Homo sapiens: one gene and its partner. The protein of the gene in region 2 interacts with the protein of the main gene of each other region in a biochemical or structural test. Each region holds a gene or a part of one and is shown on either strand. Other genes may lie near its edges.

What was found.
Region 1: the proteins of RAB5A (region 2) and CHM form a complex in vitro, tested with the Homo sapiens proteins (one study listed by BioGRID).

What each region holds. Positions count from the first base shown.
Region 1 is NC_000023.11:86,037,559-86,041,058, forward strand, and holds part of CHM (rab proteins geranylgeranyltransferase component A 1), read right to left. Parts: intron 1-3,500. UniProt on the Homo sapiens protein: Substrate-binding subunit of the Rab geranylgeranyltransferase (GGTase) complex.
Region 2 is NC_000003.12:19,953,597-19,957,096, forward strand, and holds part of RAB5A (ras-related protein Rab-5A), read left to right. Parts: intron 1-3,500. UniProt on the Homo sapiens protein: The small GTPases Rab are key regulators of intracellular membrane trafficking, from the formation of transport vesicles to their fusion with membranes.

The sequences.
Region 1 (3,500 bases), on a different chromosome or scaffold from region 2:
CTGTGTTCAGAACATATTTTACTAATGTGCCACATGACCTTTACTGCATTACTCATAAAACTGTGAGTCTAAAATAGATGATGAAAGAGAATAAGTATTCATTTCAAAAATGTTATAAAAATGATACAAAAAACCCTTCCCCTTTATATAAAATCCTATCATGAAAATCATTTTACAAAAAATAGAAATAAAAACTTTTCAGCTTTATAAACTATTTTTTTTAATGAGCGGGACCTTGGACCAAAAAAGGTATTATCATATCCATCCTATCAATTAAGATGCATGATGTATCCATTGTAAGCACTAACAGTTGTTGAAGACTGTAGGAAACAAAAGAATAGTCAACCAAAAGAAAAAAAGCTCCATAAACAGGACAATGAGTCCCATATTTGATCTTGAAAATTTAATTTGGAAGAACACTAAAAAAGACACAAAATGGCAAACCCCAGCACATGCACAAGTATTTCAGTGGGAAATTATGTACCTTGGGATTGTGAAAGGAAAACAAATCTCCCCAAAATCACTAAACCAAAAGGAAAAGTCAAGTTGGGAATTGTGTTGGGCAAACCTCTCTCCCTTTCTATTCCTAAATAAGATCACTACAAAGATTTTTAAAAAGCTACATACCTCCCTCACAATTTGCCCATAAGGAAATTCCTTGTGGACAACCAAAGGACAGGCAGAACTCAAAGTCATTCCTCTGTTCCCATGAGACAAATGCGTATCTGATGGCTTCCTCCGCCCTACTGTTTCACTACAGACTAAGGCATAAGTGACTATTCCTCATTTGTCTCTTAACTAACTATGACCCAGAAGCCTCCTCCCCACTTCGAGTTGTCTGGCCTTTCCTGATGGAACCAATGAATTATACATCTTACAAACGTTGATTAATGTTTCATGTCTCCCTAAAACATGTAAAATCAAGCTGTGCCCCTACCGCCTGGGGCACGTCATCAGGACCTGAGGCTGTGCCACAGGTGCATCCTTAACCTTGGTAAAATAAACTTTCTAAATTAATTTGGTAATCTAAATTATTTTGGTTTACAGGATCAATGAAGAATTCCTACTGAAGCAAATCATTTCTTAAAATGTAACTGTAATCTCTGATCCCATTTCTGGCCATTGCTTTAGTGGTTGATTCTCTCTTCAGTTTTAAGGGATAAACACAACCAGGTCATTCCGTTCACCTTCATCAAAAGAAGGTTTGCAAGCTGACACAGATGTCATGATGCTGTCAATAATAAGAAGCTGACATCATGAGGTTACTGCTGGAATCAGGATTTTAATGTCAACAATGATAACTCTCCAAAATAAAACAACTGCCAACCACAAACCCAGGTTAAAATAATCTCATCTTGATACTATGAGCTATTTTTTCAATTGAAAGATTCTAGCAAACTTAATCTAATACCTCAACCTTAGTCAGAAAAACTTTCGTCTTAACTGTTTCACCTACATCAAACTTAGCTGAGCCTCAGGCTTCACATTTGAAAAATGGAGATGATATAGTATCTACTGCAGGGTTACTGTGAAAATGAGACAATGCATTGTAGGGGCTTATCACCGTGCTTGGCATATAACAAATGTTAGACAATATTTTTCATGTGTTTGACAGTGTGTTGTAGGTACTAAAAACAATTTTCTAATTATCATTGATTTTGCTTACATAGCTTAAACCAAAGTAACACAGGTGTAGAAAATAAGGATTTGAACTCACAGCTCAGCATCTTCTTAATATGCCTCATATCCATGTGTAAAACTTTTTCTCTATACTTTAGCTTGTGTAAATTTTCTCATGATGATTTTAAATCCACATAAATAAGACTAGTTTAACAAATGTGCAAAGTCAGATCACAGAAACATGATTCAAAACATTTCAAAGCAATATAAAATGATTAAAACCACCATTAACTAGTAGCCATAATAACTCAATGAGAACACTGGCCTAGACCAAAAAAAAAAAAAAAAAAAAGACAGGTGAGAATACTCAAAAGAAAGAGTAGAAGTTAGTGAGTGACAGGGACAGGAGGCAGGGAAATTCTAGGCAGAAAAGGGCAGGTCCCTGAGAAAACCCCACCCTCAAGCCTGAAACCATGACGCAAAGTGAGAACTTATATCCCCATTTTCCCGTGCGAATGTTGCCTTTTCCGAAACCACTTACGGCCCACCCCACACCCCATCCTGTGTACATAAAAACCCCAGGCTCAGCCAGCAGAGAGAAGAGAAGCAGTTGGACATTAGAGACTACAGCTGGACATCAGAGAGAAGTGGCTCGACTTCAGAGGGACACCTTGACAGCGTAACTTCGAAGAAGAATCTGGCCAGAGACAGCTGGCATTCAGGGGAAGACTACCTTCCTGCCCTTTGCAGCTCCCCTTCCCACTAAGAGCCATCTCCATCAGCAATAAGATCCCCTACATTTACCATCCTTCAATTCATTCATGTGACCTCATTTCTCCTGGATGCCGGACAAGAGCTCGGGAACGATGAGTGTGGACACAAAAAGGCTGTCACACTTGCCCTTTGCCCTCACTGGTAGAAGGCAGCCGATTAACACAAAAAGGCAGAGGGCCCACTGAGCTGTTAACCCTTAAGCCGTCTGCGGACAGCAGAGCTAAAAGAGCACTGTAACATTCCCTCTGGAGCTTCAGGGGTTGCAGGCACCACCCCCGGAGATGCTACCACAGGGCCAGCACAGAGTTGACTCCTGCCAGTGCCCAAAAGCACTCGCCCCGGCTCCTGCACCCACTCAACTGCACATCCCCTCTTGTGAGGGGTGAAACACAGCAGGTCCGAGTGAGTGGAGTTCATTCCTCCTGGCACAAGAGCGGCAGGCTGACTCCAGCACTCATGTATTCCAGTTCCTGCCTTGTTCACTCACGTGCTCCCTCCTATGAGGAGTTGAAAGCGGTGGGCTGAGTAAACAGGGTGCTCCCTTCACAAGTCCCATGAAGGGGTCAGGAAAATATCCTGCTTCACCAGTACTTTTTAAAATGTGATAAAAACCAAATCAGTCAAGGAATACATTACCAACTTCAGCTCCTGATAAAATCCAGTATGAGATGAAACACTTATTTAAGCACCATACTGGCCAAGCTGCCTCTGGTCTCTTCTCCTGTCTGTTTGCAAACTGTTCTTTTCAAAAACACCCTCAATATGATAACATGCTAGCTCTCATAATCATGCTCTAAAAAAGCAGTATCTGTGATAAATTATCAACTCTTTTTACACCAAACCTTAAATGAAATTATTAGAAAAGCAAAAACAAAACATCAACCTTTCAATGTATCCCTATTTTGCTGGCCACAACTAAACGCCCCCAAAATGTTTCCAATGAGCACCAACAGTGATTTTTAGCCTATTTTACTTTTAAATATATTTATATACAGAACAGGCACAGACTAACTTTTTAGTTAAAGAATGCACTGAGACTGAATAGCAGATGATTTAGCATGAGTTAACAGGTCAATTATATGGAATTATAATTGTTTCTGTGCATT
Region 2 (3,500 bases):
GGGGTTTCACCATGTCGGTCGGGTTGGTCTTGAACTCCTGGCCTCAAGTGATCTGCCTACCTCGGGCTCTCCAAGTGCTGGGATTACAGGCATGAGCCACTGCCCCTGGCCCAACTTTCTGTTAATCTTTATTGGATACTTTTTCACTGTGCTGACCCCATGTGAATACTATTCAGGAGGTATGACAGTACCATTATGGTTATAGCTGTGGACACTATTCTTTTATGCTCTGTACTCATAGCTCTTCACCTTTAGGAACTAGAGTAGATGTAAAGCATTTAAGAATTTTAAGGTTTGAGCTATTTCATGATCAACCTGAAAGGGCCATAACTTGTAGGTAATACGTATTTTTGTTTTGACTGTCATGTGGTAGAAGTTACCTGAAAAATGAAGCCAACCAACTCTTTTGCATTTCAACTGTTGGTTTATTTTTTTTGAGACGGAATTTCACTACGTGGCCCAGGTTGGAGTGCAGTGGTGTGATCTAGGTTGACTGCAACCTCTACTTCCCAGGTTCAGGCAGTTCTCCTGCCTCAGCCTCCTGAGTAGCTGGGATTACAGGCCCACACCACCAATCCCAGTGAACTTTTGTATTTTTAGTAGAGACAGGGTTTTGCCATCTTGGCCAGGCTGGTCTCAGACTCCTGACCTCAAGTGATCCACCTGCCTCGGCCTCCCAAAGTGCTGGAATTATAGGCGTGAACCTCCACGCCTGGCCTCAACTGTTTAATTTTTCACTTTACTGTTTATATCTCCTAACATGAGTTATTGTTCTGAAGCACTCAAAATTTTAATCTCTATTTGATTGTGTTCGAAGGTGGATATCATATGTTACACTCTTGATTTGTGGATTCTGGATTCATTAAGAATATCAAGATTTCTTCTGTAATTTGTGTGGTTCTTCCTAAATACAATAACTTGATTTACGAATTCCTGTTGCGCTGTGTGCGGTGGCTTGCATCTGTAATCCCAGCACTTTGGGAAGCTGAGGTGGGCAGATCGCTTGAGTCCAGGAGTTTGAGACCAGCCTGGCCAACATAGCAAAACCCCGTCTTTACAAAAAATACGAAAATTAACCGGGCATGGTGGCACACACCTGTAGTCCCAGCTACTGAGAAGGCTGAAATGGGAGAATTGCTTGAACTGAAGAGGCGGAGGTTACAGTGAGCCGAGACTGCACCACCACACTCCAGCCTGGGTGACAGTGAGAACCCTGTCTCAAAAACAAAACAAAACAAAGAATCCCTGTTGCCTCACCATACTTCATGCATCCTACCCCTATAGCACTTCTGATGAAATTGCGTGCCGTAGATTTAGCAATTTAGAGAATTCTAGCTTGTTTGTATGGGTTTAAAGTTTGCATGACATTTATGTTTCTATTGTTGGTCTAAAGTTAGCCCAGAGATTAGCAGGGAGCAGTAGGCTCAGAGAGTTGTCTTCCTTCTTTACTTGGTACTGCATCTCTAGGCTTGGTAGCTCTTCAGTAAATACTCTCAAAAAATACTTATTTTTAAGAAGACATTTATGTGATATTTATAAACAAATTAATCCTCAGTGGTTAGAATATGCAGTGAAATAGCAAGCAGACAATCCTTTTTTTCTCTTCTGAGAAAAGTGCTTCATACCACAGTTACAATTTTGTATGCACTAATCAAAAAATGTGTTATAAACTCTAAAGTTTAGATGATGGAACTGTACATGAAAATAACATTCCTCTTGCTGGTTCTGTGATTTTTGTACATTAGCTTAGAACAGTGGTCCTCAAAGAGCGTTCCCACTTCCAGAAGTAGCTGCATTAACTAGGAACTTGTTAAAATGTAGAATCCCGTGTTGAATCAAAACATTTGGGTGGGACCAACAATCTAGGTTTTAATAAGTTTTCCAGATGATTCTAATGGCATGTTACGTTTGAGTAGTTGATTTTACATTGGTACTAACATTGATTCACCCATACATGGAATAATTGGGGGGTTTTTTTGAGGTGTGGTGTTTGTCAGATTTTTAAAAACATTGTTGACTGGGCGCGGTAGCTCATACCTGTAATCCCAACACTTTGGGAGGCTGAGGCGGGCGGATCACGAGGTCAGGAGTTCGAGACCAGCTTGCCAATGTGATGAAACCCTGTCTCTGCTAAAAATACAAAAATTAGCCAGGCATGGTGGCGTGCGCCTGTAGTCCCAGCTACTTGGGAGGCTGAGGCAGGAGATTCGCTTGAACCCAGGAGGCGGAGGAGGTTGTTGCAATGAGCCGAGATCATGCCATTGCACTCCAGCCTGGGTGTCTCAGCGAGACTCCGTCTTAAAAAAAAAATTGTTCATGCAACTAACCTAGTTTGAGAATTACATGTATTATGTACTGCTCACATTACATGTTATCTGTATCTCTTTATAGGAGAATGCCTTCCTGTTAGCCACCTGCCAGACATCTTTAGGAAAGTATGATCCCTCTGTCCAATCAAGAGTATTCTGCTTTTTCTCTACTTAGGGAGTACCCATAGTTTTCAGTCATCTGTACCACTGCTGCTCTCCTTTCTTGTCACAAATGATCAAGGCCTGATAATACACAAAATTAATTAAGAAATTTAGTGTAGGCCGGGCGCAGTGGCTCATGCCTGTAATCCCAGCACTTTGGGAGGGTGCCAGCACACTGGCAGATCACGAGGTCAGGAGTTCGAGACCAGCCTGGCCAACATGGTAAAAATACCAGAATTAGCTAGGCGTGGTGGTGGGTGCCTATAACCCCAGCTACTCAGGATGCTGAGGCAGGAGAAACATTTGAACCCAGGAAGCGGAGGTTGCAGTGAGCCGAGATCGCGCCATTGCACTCCAGCCTGGGCGACAGGGCGAGACTCCGTCTCAAAAAAAAGGAAATTTAGTGCAATTATTAACTCTTAAGTGAAGTGCTGTTTCTACTTACATATTTAACATCCATCTAAATTGGTTAGCATGGCCAACTAGTTGTTTTTAGTCTAAAACAACCTGTAACAGGAATAAAAGTTACTGTTAAAATGAAGAAAAACAAGGCTTATTTCAAAGTTATTATTAACATACTATTTTACCTAACAATTTATGGCCAAGTCATTCTAAAGAATAAACTATTGTGGTTAAGAGAGACTGTATCCAGATTGAAGTTTTTACCACAATGCCTGGCACAGTAAAAGGTTTATTAAATTATAGCTATTACAGTTACCATCACCACTGTTAACTTTTGGCTGAATCGTTTTGTCATTGTTGATATTTTTGTTGTTTGGTCATGACATACTATTATCTTGAGATGGTAGCTGTTACACCTAGTGCATAGCGTTTGATTTAGAAAATTTGAAGATTTGAAAAATTTTGTGTTTTTTTTCCTTTTTTTTTTTTTTTTTAAACAGCCTGCTCTGTTGCCCAGGCTGGTGTACAGTGGTGGCATCAAAGCTCACTGCAGCCTTGACGTGGCCTCAAGTGGTCCTCCCAGGTAGCTGGGACTGACTATAGGCATGCACCCCACACTTGGCTAAT